Linked DNA regions of Homo sapiens. The protein of the gene in region 1 purifies or fractionates together with the protein of each later gene. This does not show direct contact. Each region holds a gene or a part of one and is shown in the gene's direction. Other genes may lie near its edges.

Region 1 (5,042 bases):
GAAAGACTCTAACATCCATGAGCTTGAACATGAGCAAGAGCCTACTTGTGCCTCCCAGATGGCTGAGCCCTTCCGTACCTTCCGAGATGGATGGGTCTCCTACTACAACCAGCCTGTGTTTCTGGCTGGCATGGGTCTTGCTTTCCTTTATATGACTGTCCTGGGCTTTGACTGCATCACCACAGGGTACGCCTACACTCAGGGACTGAGTGGTTCCATCCTCAGTATTTTGATGGGAGCATCAGCTATAACTGGAATAATGGGAACTGTAGCTTTTACTTGGCTACGTCGAAAATGTGGTTTGGTTCGGACAGGTCTGATCTCAGGATTGGCACAGCTTTCCTGTTTGATCTTGTGTGTGATCTCTGTATTCATGCCTGGAAGCCCCCTGGACTTGTCCGTTTCTCCTTTTGAAGATATCCGATCAAGGTTCATTCAAGGAGAGTCAATTACACCTACCAAGATACCTGAAATTACAACTGAAATATACATGTCTAATGGGTCTAATTCTGCTAATATTGTCCCGGAGACAAGTCCTGAATCTGTGCCCATAATCTCTGTCAGTCTGCTGTTTGCAGGCGTCATTGCTGCTAGAATCGGTAAGAAATCTCTTTTTATATATTAATGAACTAAAGTGTCTTTTTGTAATGTAGGTTCAGAGAATCCATTAATAAATGATCTGAAATGTTCCCTAAATGTTAATTTAAGCAAAATCCACTCTTACGAAATTTTTATTTTACATATTTATACTTTATATTTATTGTGTTTTTTATTTTATAGTTTGAAAACCTGTATTTGTTTACTTTATTATATACATATACTTAAAACATGGTTCAGGCTTGAAAATAATTTTTTCTAAATGAATATCTTAAATATTACTTGTTTTTTTTTTTGTTTTTTTTTTTTTGAGATCAGGGTCTTGCTCTGTTACCCAGGCTGGAGTGCAGTGGTGCAGTCACAGCTCACTGCAGCCTCGACCTCCTGGGATCAAGCAGTCCTCCTGCCTCAGTCCCCCAAGTAGCTGGGACTACAGCCATGTGCCACCATACCTTGCTAATTTTTGTATGTTTTGTAGAGATGGGGTTTTGCCATGTTGCCGAAGGTGGTCTTGAATTACTGAGCTCAAGTGATTACTTTTTAAATGTAATTTAATTTATAAAAGATATTAGCTATATTAATTATACTGCCATCTAGTAGAGTCTTGATATTGCAATAACCTTAACAAAAAAACTGTAGTTTAGAAAATATTCCCATAGGACAACACTAAAAAGGTAATGTTTTTGGCTTTAAAAGAAGATGTGAAAGTGATAAAAAAAATCCTTCAAAGGTCTTCTCTAGCAAATATGTATTTATTATATAGTTTGCCACACAAATGGATTTTATAGCCCTGGAAGGAAACATAAAGACTTCTTACAAAGCAAAATTTAAGTAATAATTAATAGAGTACTGATGAATTATCTCTGAATTCAGTCTTGAAATGAAACTGTTTTTATCTTGTGATACAAAACAGTTCATTAGTTTATTGAAGATATTAATTTCCAGGCAAGACAGCTTTATTGTTTGGGCTTTAGAACTCTAGCAGTAATATAACAATGGTTTAAAGTTTCCTTACACTTTAACCATAACCATTTATTAGGTCATTTGAAACTTAAAAAATACTAGTACTTATACTATAATAGGATTTATTATGTCTCTGATTTCAAAGTTTTGTTTTTGTAGTATGAATAATCACAGAAAAACAGAACTAAGAAGTTTGTAGATTAGACTTCTTTTTGTCTGATGACTGTAAAAATCATTTATTGAGGCCACTAATAACCCAATATTTATTTATGAAAAATAATTCTTAAGGCAAGGCTATGGTATATTTAAGGTGACTTAAAGACAGTCAGGCTAAAATGTATATTTTGCATATGTCAACAGATTTTTATCTGTGATTTGAAATGTATGCCTGTAAACTAAAATCTAATCTTTAAAAAAATATTTTATTATAGGTCTTTGGTCCTTTGATTTAACTGTGACACAGTTGCTGCAAGAAAATGTAATTGAATCTGAAAGAGGCATTATAAATGGTGTACAGAACTCCATGAACTATCTTCTTGATCTTCTGCATTTCATCATGGTCATCCTGGCTCCAAATCCTGAAGCTTTTGGCTTGCTCGTATTGATTTCAGTCTCCTTTGTGGCAATGGGCCACATTATGTATTTCCGATTTGCCCAAAATACTCTGGGAAACAAGCTCTTTGCTTGCGGTCCTGATGCAAAAGAAGTTAGGAAGGAAAATCAAGCAAATACATCTGTTGTTTGAGACAGTTTAACTGTTGCTATCCTGTTACTAGATTATATAGAGCACATGTGCTTATTTTGTACTGCAGAATTCCAATAAATGGCTGGGTGTTTTGCTCTGTTTTTACCACAGCTGTGCCTTGAGAACTAAAAGCTGTTTAGGAAACCTAAGTCAGCAGAAATTAACTGATTAATTTCCCTTATGTTGAGGCATGGAAAAAAAATTGGAAAAGAAAAACTCAGTTTAAATACGGAGACTATAATGATAACACTGAATTCCCCTATTTCTCATGAGTAGATACAATCTTACGTAAAAGAGTGGTTAGTCACGTGAATTCAGTTATCATTTGACAGATTCTTATCTGTACTAGAATTCAGATATGTCAGTTTTCTGCAAAACTCACTCTTGTTCAAGACTAGCTAATTTATTTTTTTGCATCTTAGTTATTTTTAAAAACAAATTCTTCAAGTATGAAGACTAAATTTTGATAACTAATATTATCCTTATTGATCCTATTGATCTTAAGGTATTTACATGTATGTGGAAAAACAAAACACTTAACTAGAATTCTCTAATAAGGTTTATGGTTTAGCTTAAAGAGCACCTTTGTATTTTTATTATCAGATGGGGCAACATATTGTATGAAGCATATGTAGCACTTCACAGCATGGTTATCATGTAAGCTGCAGGTAGAAGCAAAGCTGTAAAGTAGATTTATCACACAATGACTGCATACAGACTTCAAATATGTCAATAGTTTGGTCATAGAACCTAGAAGCCAAAAGCCACACAGAAGGGCAAGAATCCCAATTTAACTCATGTTATCATCATTAGTGATCTGTGTTGTAGAACATGAGGGTGTAAGCCTTCAGCCTGGCAAGTTACATGTAGAAAGCCCACACTTGTGAAGGTTTTGTTTTACAAATCACTTGATTTAACACACTCAGGTAGAATATTTTTATTTTTACTGTTTTATACCCAGAAGTTATTTCTACATTGTTCTACAGCAAGAATATTCATAAAAGTATCCCTTTCAAATGCCTTTGAGAAGAATAGAAGAAAAAAAGTTTGTATATATTTTAAAAAATTGTTTTAAAAGTCAGTTTGCAACATGTCTGTACCAAGATGGTACTTTGCCTTAACCGTTTATATGCACTTTCATGGAGACTGCAATACGTTGCTATGAGCACTTTCTTTATCCTTGGAGTTTAATCCTTTGCTTCATCTTTCTACAGTATGACATAATGATTTGCTATGTTGTAAAATCTTTGTAAAAAATTTCTATATAAAAATATTTTGAAAATCTTAATTTTTCCTGAATTCTGTTCCCCAATTATTTAACAAGGCTTTTGTTACAGAACATCTGTTTTGGGTAACTTGTTTTTCTCTATAAAGGGCTACAGTGTCATGATTTTTAGTGTTATCTCCCTGTTCATATTTCTAGTTTATGGTGGACTGGATAAAAGTGTAGTAGACATGAGGCCCAGCACTCTTTCTTTGACTTTGAATATGTCACACTAAGCACTTTTAAGTTCTCACTTCTATTTTCCCTTCTGTAAATTGGAAATGATAGTAAAAACAACCCTACCTACCTTTCAACTTTCCTGGTTGAATGAAATAAGAGAAGCCATGTGGAATTACTTAGTGAACTACAAGACAAGGCAGCATTTTTACTAGAGGTTGGACCTTAGTAATGACGGGGAGCTGAGGAGAGATGTCTGCTGCCTCTAGAGAGAGTAGAGCCACATTCTGCATAAAGGAAACATTTATTGGGGACTTGATCTAAACTGTTATCAGTCCTAGGGATTCAGACTGGACTCAGACATAGTTGATCAGAGCCTCCTTTCCTTTCTCCTAAAATTGAGAACTTGAGAGCATTTGGCATCGCCCTGCAGCTACTGATCTGTTCATGATGTTTGTGCAAACTAGATGCCTCTGTTAGGTTTGGCTGCTGTCTTGAACTGGCTCTCTGCTCCCTCCCACAGGGGTCAAGGCTGGGATTGAAGATCTGTCCTGAATGTTTGCAGCTGTAACTGAAGGCCTATGACCTTGAAAAATGAACAGAACCACATTAGCAAGGGGAGGCCTCAGCTCTTAATATGGGCATTTTGCCATTCTGTGCATCTAGTGAGAGAGGCCCTGTGTAGGAAGAAGAAGCATGGAGTTGAAGAGTTAATAGGAATTTTTACAGCTGTTGCTCTTACCTTTGCAGACTACTGCTCAGAGCAGGAAGAGGAAGGAAGTGGAAAAGAATCACTGCTGGTCTGGACAGCCTTTGTTGTTTACTTCCTCAGACCACAGAAGTAGGGCAGGGGTAGGTGACCTGTGTGGCTGTGTTATGGGGGTGCTTCTAAATATGGGGTCAAACTCAAATAACTGCAGAGCCAATTAGGTCATTAAAATGAATGAAGTAGATTTGAAATAGGAAAATACTCGTTTTATATGTAATTGCATTTTACCGAAGTATTTAATTTTGTTCCCACTTAAAAACAAATTCATTACATTTTTTTTCCTGCTTTTCTCTGTTGCAGGCTTCTTACAGTTATTAAGTTGGTTCTTTCAGCATACACACCCTTTGTTTGCATATTAAACATAGGTAAATCATCTTCATTTCTATAAAGAAATATCCCCCTTTTTTGGAAAATCTGGCTTGATTTTTTTTTTTTCCTTTTTCCCTACCCTTTAAGAAAATAAAAGTGTAAATAAGAAATTACTTTACTGTTTCCCATAAGACAAAAGACAGTACAAGAGGCATGCT
Region 2 (4,845 bases), on another chromosome or scaffold:
TTCACTACCATGAGAACAATATGGGGGAAACCACATCCATGATTCAGTTACCTCCACCTGGCCCCCTCCCTTGACATGTGGGGATTATTACAATTCAAGGTGAGATTTGGGTGGGGACACAGCCAAACCATATCAGTTACTTAAAAAGTATACTTAATAGAGATACTTAAGGCTCCTTAAAAGGAAAAATGGAGCATCTTCTAGTTGCAAAGTCCACCTCTCTTTTTGTTATTGTCCTGTGACTTTAACATCTCCTCTGGCTTCAACAATATGCTACAGTTTTGCAAACTCTAGGTGGGACTGCTTTCTCTGTGATTTTTTTCCCCCATATATCTTACCAGTGAATTTTGAATACAGCTTCAGCAATTTTGCCAATACTATGCTAAACTTTTTGCATAGATGTGTGCAGATAGCAACCTTTTGGTCCCTTCTTTGTCCCAGATTTGCAGCATGTTTAGCCCAGTCAGTGAAGGATGATGGAGTATCACAAGACATGGTTGGCACTTCTTATCGTATGATGACTAAAAAGGAGTGGAAATAAATGGGCTGAAGAATAAGATGTGAAAGAGTGTAATATGAATTTTAGGTAAAGAATCGAGTTTAAGCTGAATGTTGATCTTGAAGGTCTGGGATGATGAACAGGAAAATATGCATTGAGAGTACTAGTATATGCATATGCAAGTACTAGTGCTTGGTCACTAGTACCTAGAATATAGGAGACACTAAATAAATATTTCTGAATAAGTTTAAATGAGTAAATAAAAGATACATAGGAAGATAGGAAAAATCATAGACTGTATTGTAAAAACTTTTCCTTGCTCCTCATGTGGAGAGATTCATGCTATAGAACAAATCAGGTAACAGAATAAGATAGAAAAGTCACCTGAGGGGATTATATGCAGGGTTAGTGCAACTGAAAACACTGGCAGATATTAAAAGAGAAAAATGTATAGGTTTTGGGGGGGACTAAAAAAATAAAGTTTACTTCTCTGGTATTAATGCCAATAATATTTATTTCTAAAAGAGTGAAGTGGAAAATAATTTCCTTATACTCAGTACTGCTATTTACTTGGGTCAGTGCCTTATCTGTCACTTCAACACATCAGTAAGTAGTTAAAGACTTTATAAGAGATAATTCCTGATCCTAAGTTATATATATTCAAATTAAAATAAATGACATACATATAAAAACAATTAGTAAACACAATAGTGTGTTCTGGGTCCATAGTAGGCATTAGTTAATTATTTACTGAATTAATTGACTATATAATAGCAAAAATTATAGTAATTCTCTTATCTTCAGATTACTTTTTTTTCTGATGACCTCTAGGAAGCTGGAAATAAGTGAAAATTTTTTTAAGTATACGAACGGCCATCACAAAACTCTTTTATACTTGACTTCATAGGCTCTCACTCAGGCTTGGCAACTTTCTTAACATACAGTTCTTACAAACATTATTACCGGGTTTTTCATTCCATTAGAGGTTTCCAAAACAAATGGTACAGTGAAGATGTCACTATAAGCAGGCCTAATGACCAAGAAGAAATAACAGCTCAAATCCTGACCAAAAAACTAGACAACAAAGAACATTCCACCTTACGGTAATCATAATTACTATAATTATGATCTTGAGTGATCAGGATATAATAAGTATTCAATAAGTGTTCATTTCACTATTGTTATCAAAAAAGTTACTTTTTTTCCATTATATCCGCTGTTTAGGAAAACAGGGAAGCAAATAAAATATTTTTAAAGAAAAAGCTTGCACTAATGACATTCATTTTACCCCTATTAAAAGATAAACTTGGGCATATTGAAAGTTTAACAAGTTTATTCAAGCATTCAGCCACAGCAATTGGGTGCCCTAAGACCACAAGCAGTTCTGTCAATGCTCCTCTGGGCAGGGAGGAAACTTTTATAACGTATTCTCAGACTAAGAAATAGATATTAGACTGGTTAAAGTGGAGACTCCCTAGTTAGATGTTAGTTGGCGGCTTCTGATTGGTAAAGTCTCTAGTTACAGATTCGAAGTTTCATTTTACTGTTTACTACATTGAATTGGGTTTTGGTTTGCTTACGTAGGAACCCAAGGCGCTGATGTTGTCTCAGCCTAGTGGCCTCCCAAGTTATATAGCATCCCTTCAAAAATGATTTTTAAATTTTTAAATGATTCTTAAATAGGTACAATTACTAGCTAAAATTTTCTGGAAAATTTACTTTAAATGACTCATTCTCCAAGGTTGCCAAATAAAAAATAGCAAGCAATAGGGCTGGGCGTGGTGGCTCACACCTGTAATCCCAGCACTTTGGGAGGCCAAGGCAGGTGGATCACAAGGTCAGGAGTTTGAGACCAGCCTGGCCAACATGGTGAAATCCCGTCTCTACTAAAAATACAAAAATTAGCTAGGTGTGGTGGCGTGCGCCTGTAGTCCCAGCTACTCAGGAGGCCAAGGCAGGAGAGTTGCTTGAACCCAGGAGGTGGAGGTTGCAGTGAGCCGAGATCACGCCGTTACATTATAGCCTGGGCGACAGAGCAAGATTCCATCTCAAAAAAAAAAAAAAAAAAGCAAGCAATAGCTAGTGCAGTACACTTCCAAACACTTCACACAAGACAGCTTGTATGGAAGAGCTAATTAAGTGACTAACATTTCACACTGACCAAATTCCATTTATTATCAAGTTCCTATTTCTCCTGAGAACACAGACAAAAGAAAATTCACTAGGTACTGCATTCATGCTGCGCCAGTGGAGGAAGGCTGGTTAGAACCGGCAAATCACTTGAATTTGTGTTATATATACCTAGGTTGAGTCTCTGCCATATTCTTGCAGCAGTTAATTTTTGACTGTTTTCCTTATGATTCTTGTTTATGGTAGGCAGCATTTCCAAAGTGGCTCCCAGAAGAAATCCTATCCTAAATCTCCAGAACCTGTGAACAGGATGAGACATCACTCTCATGATTTATGTTTTAGTCAGTGAGATTATCTGAAGAGTCCACACACTGAAGCTGACTTGAAGATGAAAGGGGCCACCTAGGAGGGCATACGGGTGACCTTAAGAAACTGGGAGAGGCTCTCGGCCCATAGCCAGCAAGCAAACAAGGATTTTAATTCTATGACCCCACTGAACTGAATTCTGGCAATAACCCAAATGAGCTAGGCAGATTTCTCCACAGAGCCTCAGATAAGTACTCAGCTCAGCAGCCCCTTGATTTCAGCTTGGTGATGCCTGAGGCAGTGAACCCAGCCACACCATGCCAGACTCTGACCCATAGAATAGTGAGATTATAAATGGGTGTTGTTTTAACCTACTTTGTGATAATTTGTTATGCAGCAATAAAAAATATATGTCTCAATTAATGAAGTCAAAAATCCAGAAACTTTTCACCTATAATACCCAAGTTTTGGGAACCACGTCTAAGCATAAACCAAGATCACTTGAGTGAATTCTAAATTTATGGGAGGGAATAGCATTATTAATATCTTACCAAAGCAATACTAAAAAATAGTTATGCTACTATTAAAAACTCATTTCTGGGTCTAAGACTACCAGAAATTATAGGAGCGGGCTTTTCTTTTTTTAAATAAGGGGCTAAAAAGAGAGAATGTGATTGATTACTTGAAGGGAGATATGTCTACAGTAATGAGTAGAAAGGAACATACTACAGTTGTCAACAGGAAGAACTACAATTAAATGTGAATTATTTGGTTGAAAGAACAGCTATAATAGATTCTTGTGGCTGAATATCTAACTGGCAAACTTCCTGCAAGCTTCCAGTAACTGGCCCTTTGTCCTCAAGCTGTGCTGTCGAAATTAAATAGAGAGCCCCTAATGACCTTTTAATGTTTATTTGGAGACAAAGCATAAACAAATAGACTTCTCCCAAAGTGTCACACAGTGTAAAATATTTTCCAGTTTGGTTAAGACAGTTTTTTTCACAATAAAAGGCAAGATGCAAAAAGCAGTTTGCATATTGCAATGTGTATAAAAGGAATTTCAGATGTTAAAACGCCTAGATATGTTATACCTTCAGATCAATAATTTTAAAAGCAATTTTAACCCCCCCAAAAAACTTTGCCTAGAAAAATTAGTTACAAAGCCTAGGCAATATAGGTCTTGGTCTTGGTCTTAGGTATTTGTTTATGGCAATGCTCTTCCTATTTTAGGAAATGATTAATACAGGAGCATTTCAATGCAATAAAATCATTTTGACAAAGCCTGCTATAGTTTATCAAAATAGGACATGATGTATGCCAAAGTGTATTTACATTCAGAAAATATAAAGAAACATTTTATTTAAATGAAGCCTTAAGAATTTGAGGGCTAACTTTTAACTTTGGCCTATGTAAGATGTGTACCAATAGGACATGGTAAAGCATGGAGTAAAGTCTCCAAATATTATCAAATCAATCTCTCAGAAATAAAAGTGTGTTCAGACTCTTAAGAAAATTTACCCTGGGGCTTAGACAAGTCTCTGTGAGATTGATTGGTCCAGGGTTCCGGTGGGACCAGAGTGGAATTGTACCTTTGTACTGTAGACTTTGCAGCTGCAGTTGTGTACCTAACTGAAATTGCACTCTTATTGACCTCCTCTCAGTCATATGGACTGAATGACTCTCTGCTTTTAAACTTAGTAGTCTTTGATGCAACAATTTTGCTGTTGTTAAGACATATATTTATTAAGACTCTTTCTGTGCATTCCTTGCTATGGGTTTAGGGACAGAGTTCACCCCAGTGTCTTGCCCTTTTCCCATGCCTACCTGTGTCCATGAAGTCTCTCCCAATCTTTTCCTATTTTGCTTTAACAAATTGGGAAATGGCAACAAACAATTAGAAAGTGAAAACA
Region 3 (4,845 bases), about 29 Mb from region 1:
GGAAAATATCAGACATTTGTTCCATGAATTATTCTATTTAAAGGATTACTTAATAAAGGCTTTTGTGTTTGTTCTAGATTTTATCCTTCACCATACAGTATTGCTACAAACCGAATGATCACTCAAACTTCTATTACACCCTATATTGCATCTCCTGTATCTGCCTACCAGGTTTGTACCTTTAGGATTCGTCAGCAGTATAACCACTTGCGGACCATGAATCTCTGCTACATTTTTATGTGTCTTAAAATTTTGAGCGTTTATGAAATTTGAGTCAAATATTATGCAGCTTGGATACCCAATTTAGTATGAGCTGCTTTGTATTTGGCAGAGCAATTTATGTATAGGAGAATGTAAAGCAAAGGAAAATGTTTGTCAGTGGTCAGTCCTTGGAATCATAGCATTTTGGATTGGAATGAACCCAAACACTTCCTTCACCAAGGGGCCCTGCTTTTGGACACCATGTGTCCCAAAAATTGAAACTTAAGATAATTGCCGTTAGATATAATACAGAATAGGTGTGTACCCTTGCTTTTGTTTATTCTTCAGCAGGAACTGATAAAAGAACAAGTATAAACATGGTAATACATAAAGATGTGTCTCTAGTAGGTAGCATTAAGTGAGCAATGCAGCTGACATTTGAGGTAAAAATATAAAAGCAAAAAGGTGACTTCCTGTTTAGGTTAAGTGAGGAGGCTTTACCTTAAAATAAATTCCCAACTTAGCAACAAAAACTCTTGAAATGTCTTGTATTTCAAGATTTGATTTGATTTTAATGCAAAGGTAGCTCCTGTCCGCCATGAACCCAGTAGTGTACATGCATTTCTCCTCCTGTGTCAGAAAACCTCTAACAGGATTACTTCCTGGACCCAGATAGGAACCTTATAATGGAGTTCAGTTGCAGACATGTGGGAGCAGAGTTCCCTTTTGTTGACCATCAGGATCCTGTGTGACTAAATTTTTGTGTATTCTTGATTTTAAAACAATTGAATTAGATGTTGTAGTCCTAATTTCTGGGGTTAGAGGACTACAATATGTAATCTAATAGTTGTGTTATTTTAACTTCTATAAGCCTCAGTTTCCTCATCTTTAAAATGGGGATAATAATAGTTTCTATCTCATAGGCTTGAGAGAATTATGAAAACCAAATGAGACTGTATAAAGAGCCCAGCCAAGGACCTCACATATCATTATCACTCAGTTAATGTTAGCTATGATTATTATCATTAATATGCATGATTAGGTGGCTGATAATAAGAGTATATTAGTTATACGTTTAAATAATGAATTGGCCAACATAAGCAATGTCATATAACTAATTCTGCCTAAAAACATAAAAATGGTTTTGAATAACAGAAGTGATTAGATACGCTAAAACTGAGGATTGGCATTATCATTCACAGTCTCCTATGCTTCTAGGCTCTTACAGCCTCCTTTCCCTGAGTTGTCACTCGTTTTCTTTTCTTTTTTCTCTCTGGGTTCTTATGTTACTTATTCTGGTGCTTCATTCTGCTGGGCGTAGTATTGACTAATTTAATGCCTCTTTAGTTGTTTTGGATTTAGGATTCCTATCCTTTCTTTGACTGTATAAGACTCAGTGAGATCTGCTCTAGTGCACTTCCCTAATTAACAATTCATGTGTCTGCTATGAAAAGGTAGTCTTTCTTAACTGTCTGAACTTGGAAACCTCTGTCATTTATATGTCACTGAAAATAGGGGCAAGTGTAAGTTATTCTCAGGCAAATGAAAGGTTGTAAGTATTAATTTGAATTTATGTTGCTATAGATATTACAGCTATTAACACATTTCTCCAACACCTCTTTTTCCCTCTTATAATATAAAACCAGTGTGCATTTGGCCACAGAACCATTTTGTACAATAAAAATTAGGAGATCTGTGTCAGTAATAGATTTGATATAGCTAACTAGAAATAACATATTATTTCAGAGGCCTTATTTCCTCTCCTGGGCATTCTGTATTTCTCTAAGATACATATGGAATTTCATTGCATTGCCTGACACTCGGTGCCATAGCCTCAAAGACTGATTTTTAACTACATAAGTTCAGGGACCTAGTAGGGTCAGTGGATGAGCTTTAAGTGATCTGTGACTCCTTAAGTTGTTTGCAAAATGTTGCTTGTGTGTGTGCAATTAAGTGGGGAAAAATGTTCTATTTCCCTAATTAGGTTTTCAGAGGGCTCCATGACCCTAAAGAGGTTAAGAACCAATAGTAAAGAGTTTACAAAACATTATTATTCCCATTTTATAATTAGAAAATTGAGGAATAGAAATTGACAGCAGCTGATTTGCTGCTTAAGAAAGAAAATTAGATGTCATAGTTCCCTAATCCTGTAATGCTATAAGCTATTAGATTATTAAGACCACTGAAGCATATAAAAAATGGGGGCATCTGGCCCAAATTAGGGTCTGTAGGGAGTTGTTTGCCTTCCCATCATATATCCAGTGAGGGCCCTGCACTCATGTTGGAGTGGGCCTTTCTCCACTAAACCACCATAAGCTTATGCAATTGGATTTGAGAAATTGGCAGCTGCAAGAAACCACCAACCCCAATGGGGAAAGGCTACAGTCCAGATAACTGAAATGTTAACAAGGCAGAAGCACTTAACTTTGGTCTGCCTTAGGTGGCAAAGGAAACCAGAGAAAACAAGTATCGGGGCTCTGCTATCAAGGTAAATCGCAATACATTCTTCCCCCATGACTCTTCCCCATATCCTCTCTGTTGAACCTCTGAAGTTAACAATAGGGGATAAAATGCAGGAGGGTTTTGTTGTTAAGAATTGGAAACTGAAACTTAATAAAATTACTTAGACTCTGGAAAGCTCTGGGCATCAAGAAATGGGCTGATATGTTTTTCTCTTGAGTGGCAGACTACACATGCTTTCTTTCCTGCCACAAAACCTGACTCTCACATCTATTTCTCAATTCAGAGGGTCTACTGTGTGGATGCCCATTTGACTGTAGATGTCAAAATCTAGTTACTGAAGTTTAATTTCCTTAATCTGAATTTCAGATTTTTATTTTCTGCACTAAGTAGAAATTGTTGACCACAATACAAGATTTCTAAAATTAATGTCCTAGATATGAAAGAGAAATTGAATTTGGTTTTTTGTATTAAATAAGCACATACTTTAAGGGTTAGCTTCTAATAAGATGTGCTGGAATTAATCGTCATTCATCTGTAATTCTAAAGCACCTAGTTCATACCTTGATTGTTAACACTTTTCACTATTTGAGTTGTTGCTGTGTTTATCTCCCTTGCATAGATAGTAAATTTCTTGAGGGTGGGGCCCAGTCTGTTTCGCCTTTTTCTCTTTGTTGCCTGATACTCAACAATTACTTCTTGAGTGGGCAAATAGAAATTGTTTCTAAATAATCATTTCATCCTGTTCAGAGTGACCAGTTTGCCAAGAATTCTAACTGCCTTAATCTTTTTAATCATTGATAGTATTGTTTCCTTGTTTTCTTTCTGTAGATTTTTAACATGATTAAAAAGAGTTCTAAAGAAATAGGTAAGCTTTACAATGAAAATCAATATTTCTTTCAAAATCCTCCCTTTTCTAGGTGCAAAGTCCTTCGTGGATGCAACCTCAACCATATATTCTACAGCACCCTGTAAGTTTTTTATCTTAATGACTTTGTGTTTTACAAGTAAGTTATGTGTATATTCTCTCTAGGTTAAAACCATTTGCCAAGGGTGGTATAGGATTTGGGAAATTTTAAACATGGAATATGAGAATGTACAATTTCATTATAAAACTTCTTCTCATCCTTATAAAACAACTTGGTAGAAGATATTAAGTTACATTTTCTATAAGAACTTAAAATATATCATATTTGAGGCAGGGCACCATTTTCTTATTCATACCAGCTCTTTAGAGATCATTCAAATGAGAGGCTACATTTTTAATAGTACTTGGGATAAAACCGCTCTCATTTTTTACATTCTGTTTAATGCAGATATAAAGTTCAAAACCGAGATGAAGATTTTCATCAGTGTTACTTGGCCTTTCTATGGAGATTATAAATACTAAAGTGGTAGCACATTATTTGGTAAATAACAAATGTGATTTCTTAATGACGTGAGCATTCATATATATTACATTTTTTTAAATTGAATGAGTTATACTTATTATATAGTGTATTTCATGTGTTTTTCAAAGACACATAAGATCTAGTTTGTGGAAGAAGGGTTTGAAAATTTAAAAATACATATGGAGAACAAAGTTACAATAAGGCTAAGGATGTCCAACACAATGACCCTGCATGCTCACATGAGAAAATCACAAATTTGGCTCTAAGCTTTCTAGTAACTGATGCAAAATGGGAATCCTGGTAAGCAATACAGTTCACAATATGTGTAAAATAAAAACAGATTTGGTTGCTTAGAAAAAGAACTGTATTCTTGGCCTTATGTTCAGACAGCAATTTGTCTTCGGATACCTTTTAAAGTGGATACTGCGATGTAAGACCATGTATATGAAATAGCAATCCAGGGATAACAGGTTCTGAATGAGAAATTGCTGAGATGACCTTTAAGAAGCAGATAAAACATGTTTAGGTGATGAAATAGGAGAGGCGCGCTCTGATATATGTATACGTTTTGTGTGATATATACACATACATATAGATCTATACATGTGCACATACATAGACACATCTTCAAACCCACACTTACCTGTACATGTGTACATAATATACATGCACTGATCCACACATGCCCATAGCAATCTGTGTCCCTGATACTCCATGCTACCCTATTTTGGAATGCTTGGAAATCAGCTTGCTTTGAATTTGAGGACTTCCTATTACAGATGGTGCCAATGAA
Region 4 (4,845 bases), on another chromosome or scaffold:
ATGAGCAGCACCAGCAGTAAGAGGGCTCCGACCACGGCAACCCAGAGGCTGAAGCAGGACTACCTTCGCATTAAGAAAGACCCGGTGCCTTACATCTGTGCCGAGCCCCTCCCTTCGAATATTCTCGAGTGGTAAGGCTCCGCGCCACTGATCGCCCTGCGCTGACTGTCGCTGCCACGCAGGCCTCTGCCGGCCCCTGCTGGGCGAGCCTGGTGCCCCAGTCATGGCATTGGCAAGGTGCTCCTGCACCCTCCCCCGGGGTGAGTGGGGTGCCCAGGGGCCTGTGGACACTCTCTGGTCTTTTCCCAATGGACGCATGCCGGGGACATCACAGAGCCATGCTTGACTCAGGCTGGGGCTGGAGAGAATCTCCGGTGTGGGGCCCTTGAGGGGGGCGGGGTCCAGGTTGACTCAGGTTGGGGCTGGAGAGAGTCTCTGGTGTGGGGTCCTTAGGGGAGGGGTCCAGGTATGCAGGGTTCACAGCTGTTGCTGGTGTGCACTCTAGGCACTTAGAGGAGAAACTGCCTTTCTAGACTCTGCTCTTTGCTTCTGGATATGGGAATTAGCCTGTTTTGGCTTGGAGTATTTGACAGGACTAGGGTCCGACACTCCTGTCCCTGGCACTGGCTTGGGCCAGGTGCCCCGACCCTCAGGCTGACAACGAGAGGACCTGTGCCTCATAAGCATTCACCTCATGGTGACTCTCCCCCTTGCTGAAGTATAGAGTGTGAGAGTGCATACTGCTCTGTCGAAACACTGCCATTACAGGTCTGCTAGTAATTTGGTAAGAAATAAAGTGTGAGAGGCCGGGCATGGTGGCTCACACCTGTAATCCCAGCACTTTGGGAGGCTCAGGCGGGCGGATCACCTGAGGTCAGGAGTTCGAGACCAGCCTGGTCAACATGGTGAAACCCTGTCTCTACTAAAAATACAAATATTAGCTGGGCATGATGGCGCACACCTGTAGTCCCAGCTACTCGGGAAGCCGAGGCAGGAGAATCGCTTGAACCCGGGAGGCGGAGCTTGCAGTGAGCTGAGATCACACCACTGCACTCCAACCTGGGCAACAAGAGCGAAACTCTGTCTCAAAATAAAATAAAATAAAATAAAATGTAAGGATGTTTTATATTTTGATCTTTTAAAAAAAAATTACTTATTATTATTTTTTGAGACAGTCTTGCACTGTCACCCAGACTGGAGTGCAGTGGCACAATCTCGGCTCACTGCAAGCTCTGCCTGCCGGGTTCATGCCATTCTCTGGCCTCAGTTTCCCAAGTAGCTGGGACTACAGGCGCCTGCCACCATGCCCGGCTAATTTTTTGTTTTTGTATTTTTAGTAGAGACGGGGTTTCACCGTGTTAGCCAGGATGGTCTTGATCTCCTGACCTCGTGATCCGCCCGCCTTGGCCTCCCAGAATGCTGGGATTACAGGCGTGAGCCACCACGCCCGGCCTTATTTATTTTTTTGAGACAGAGTCTTGCTCTGTCGCCCAGGCTGGAGTGCAATGGCGTGATCTCGGCTCACTGTGACCTCCGCCTCCCTGGTTCAAGCAATTCTCCTGCCTTAGAGATGGGGTTTCACCATATTGGTCAGGCTGGTCTCGAACTCCTTATCTCAGGTGATCTGCCTGCCTCAGCCTCCCAAAGTGCTGGGATTACAGGCTTGAGCCACCATGCCTGGCCTAATTTTTTTTAATTCCAGAGAAAAGATATTTCAGTGAGTTGAAAGGAAATGTGTTTCGGCTTGGTCAGGGGTCCACCTTCTCTGGCTCACAGAGGAGGCCCAGCCCAGGCAGGCGGAGGATACCCAGGGTGAGGCGGAGCCCCTTGGCCACCAGAGTGCTCTCTGCCCCCAGTGTTGAAAATCACATGTGGCCCCAGGACATCGCTGGCAGGTGAGAGGGACAAGTTCCACGGTAGCCGCCTCCTCGCTGGTTGCGAGGACGTCTTCATTGTGTGGGGAAATCCCTCCCCACAAATCTGTGGGTCAGGCGTCCCCAAGTCCCGGTGCAGGTTCGATGATTCACAAAGAATACTCACCATTAAAATTACGGAGAGAAGTCCAGGCACAGTGGCTCATGCCTGTAATCCCAGCACTTTGGGAGGCCGAGGTGGGTGGATCACAAGGTCAGGAGATTGAGACCAGCCTGGCCAACATGGTGGAACCCTGTCTCTACTGAAAATACAGAAATTAGCCCGGTATGGTGGCGCACGCCTGTAATCTCAGCTACTTGCTACTTGGGAGGGTGAGGCAGGAGAATCGCTTGAACCCGGGAAGCGGAGGTTGCAGTGAGCTGAGATCGCACCACTGTACTCCAGCCTGGCGACAGAGTGAGACTCCACCACACACACACACACACACACACACACACACACACACACACACACAATGGAGAGAAAACACACACACACACACACACACACACACGAGAGAAAACTGCAGTCAGCCAGCGGAAGAGGCATGTGGGGCAAAGTCTCTGTGCTCCATTCCCAGCAGCAGGCTTGGGTTTGGACGGCATGTGTGGAATGTTGAGCAGAGAAACTCATTGGAAACTAAAACATTAGGGGAAGGCCCAGGGACTTTATGGGGCTGGTCCTAGGCACCCTCTGCCTGGCACCTGCCAAAATACCAAAATACCAGACTTCCAGGAGAGCAGGGGCTCAGCGTAGCCCATGTTGCCTGTACTGTTGAGGCATTAAGGACAGCAGCGTCAGTGCGAGAGCCCCTGGCAGGTCCTCGGCAGGTGTCTCTCCCTTCCCCGAGAGAAGACTGCTTTCCCAGAAAAGGCCTGTGGGGTGCGCTATGGGCCACGTGGATCCCATCTTCTCTCAGCCGCCCCAAGGCTGCTGGGCTCTGTCTCAGGAAGAGGATGACTTCTTCATTTCTTCCCAGTTTTCGCAGGTTGGGCACAGTAACAACGTAAGGCCACATTCCTGGGTGCATCGCGTGCTGAGCTCAGAGCCACTGGGTTCCTGGGTCAATGACACATGATAATGGCATTTTTTGAGTAAAACATACCAGCTGGCTCTGCTGATACATCATCCCATTAGTATACATTACTATACGTCATCCCATTAGTAGTTTCTTTTGAGTACTATTTCTGTCACTCAGGCTGGAGTGCAGCGGTGTGACCTCGGCTCACTGCAACCTCCGTCTTCCAGGTTCAAGCGATTCTCCTGGCTCAGCCTCCTGAGTAGCTGGGATTACAGGTGTGTGCCACCATGGCTGGCTAATTTTTGTATTTTTAATAGAGACAGGGTTTCACCGTGTTGCCCAGGCTGGTGTTGAACTCCTGACCTCAGGCAATCCACCTGCCTCAGCCTCCCAAAGTGCTGGGATTACAGGTGTGAGCCACCGCACCTGGCCTAATTTTTGTATTTTTAGTAGAGACGGAGTTTCGCCATGTTGACCAGGCTGGTCTCGAATTCCTGACTTCAGGTGATCTACCCACCTTGGCCTCCCAGAGTGCTGGGATCACGGGCATGAGCCACCGAGCCCAGCCCCCATTAGTTTTAAAGTGATGGCACACATGTCCTGGGGCAGAGCAAGGGGAAAGATGATGGCCGGTGTTGGCCGGTGTTGGCAGTTGAAGCCATGTCTGGTTTCTGGCATTTCTAGCTGGTTTTACTTTCTTCTCTGTGCTCTTCTGTTTCGTTTGGGAATCTGTAAAGCCCAGACACTTCTTTACGTAAAGCAGAAGCCTTATTTATTTGTGTGGAGGAGTGTTTAGTCGATTTGCTGCTGCCCCTGGTCTGAGGGTGAGCTCTGTGTGGGGACTGTGGCTTTGGACACAATCACGGCAGTTCCTGTTCCTTCTGCTCCAGGACAGCTGCTCAAGTCACTTATGGTTTTTCCAGGAGCACGAGAAAGGGCTGGGGGTACCGAGCCGGCCCCGCATCACTAGCTGTGTTCTGTTTAGCCTGCATGTGTGATATCAAAAAACACATTATATATAAGTACATTTAAGAATATACATTTCAAAGTACATCGTTTTTTCTTTGGAGATAGGGTCTCACTCTGTTGCCCAAATGGGATGTGGTGGCACAATCATAGCTCACTGCAGCCTTAAACTCCTGGGCTCAAGTGATCCTCCCGCCTCAGCCTCCTGAGTAGGCGGGCTGCAGGCATGCACTACCACACCCGGCTAACTTTTTTTTTTTAAATAAAGGTGGGGTCTTGCTATGTTGCCTAGGCTGGTGTCAAGCTCCTGGGCTCAAGCGATCTTCCACCGTGCCCTCCCAAAGTGCTGGGATTACAGTCTTCAAGTACATCTTAGTAATGTACTGTGAAATTAAAATTTATTTAAGATTTCAGTTATTATTAAGATGAGCTTCGTGCATGTTATATTGTCGAAACAAAGGTACTTTATGGTAAACTTATAAAGTATAGTCTCTAAGATCCTGTTACAAGAGACTAAAAGCACCCACGGTAGAAGAGACGGGGGTTTTGAAGCCGTGTGGCTGTGTGACATTTCACCTTCATTTGTTCACTGCCTGAATGTGAATGTAATTTTGGCTGGGTTCTATAAACCCCAGGCTTGGAATGATTCAGATTTTGGAGAATTTGCTGTCCTCAAATCCCAAGTAATTTTCTTCTCTCCCTTAGGCACTATGTCGTCCGAGGCCCAGAGATGACCCCTTATGAAGGTAAGGATTCTGTGCTTAGGAGAAGAACACCAGGCGGTTTTTATATTCTCAGTCAGCCTTGCCTGTTCAACATCTTTTATTTGCAAACAGCAGCCTTTCTACTTTGGATGTGTGCTAGTTAAATTGGCTTAGTTGGAACTCCTCCTCGTCTGCTTCTCCACACGCTGGAAGTGTTTGCTCTGCTGATGTGTCTCAGCC

The links.
Region 2: the proteins of SLC40A1 (region 1) and CP purify together in Homo sapiens (co-immunoprecipitation; one study listed by IntAct). This does not show direct contact.
Region 3: the proteins of SLC40A1 (region 1) and RBMS1 purify together in Homo sapiens (affinity purification with mass spectrometry; one large-scale study listed by BioGRID and IntAct). This does not show direct contact.
Region 4: the proteins of SLC40A1 (region 1) and UBE2J2 purify together in Homo sapiens (affinity purification with mass spectrometry; one large-scale study listed by BioGRID and IntAct). This does not show direct contact.

The regions. Positions count from the first base shown.
Region 1 is NC_000002.12:189,559,141-189,564,182, reverse strand, and holds the end of SLC40A1 (ferroportin), read left to right. Parts: coding exon 1-599; intron 600-1,991; coding exon 1,992-2,305; 3' UTR 2,306-3,593; downstream 3,594-5,042. UniProt on the Homo sapiens protein: Transports Fe(2+) from the inside of a cell to the outside of the cell, playing a key role for maintaining systemic iron homeostasis.
Region 2 is NC_000003.12:149,214,623-149,219,467, reverse strand, and holds part of CP (ceruloplasmin precursor), read left to right. Parts: intron 1-4,845. UniProt on the Homo sapiens protein: Multifunctional blue, copper-binding (6-7 atoms per molecule) glycoprotein. It has ferroxidase activity oxidizing Fe(2+) to Fe(3+) without releasing radical oxygen species. It is involved in iron transport across the cell membrane.
Region 3 is NC_000002.12:160,280,101-160,284,945, reverse strand, and holds part of RBMS1 (RNA-binding motif, single-stranded-interacting protein 1), read left to right. Parts: intron 1-77; coding exon 78-171; intron 172-2,641; coding exon of another isoform or gene 2,642-2,689; intron 2,690-3,581; coding exon 3,582-3,632; intron 3,633-4,845.
Region 4 is NC_000001.11:1,263,148-1,267,992, reverse strand, and holds part of UBE2J2 (ubiquitin-conjugating enzyme E2 J2), read left to right. Parts: coding exon 1-131; exon of another isoform or gene 132-223; coding exon of another isoform or gene 224-260; intron 261-1,702; coding exon of another isoform or gene 1,703-1,895; intron 1,896-2,402; exon of another isoform or gene 2,403-3,162; coding exon of another isoform or gene 3,163-3,210; intron 3,211-4,606; coding exon 4,607-4,647; intron 4,648-4,845. UniProt on the Homo sapiens protein: Catalyzes the covalent attachment of ubiquitin to other proteins. Seems to function in the selective degradation of misfolded membrane proteins from the endoplasmic reticulum (ERAD).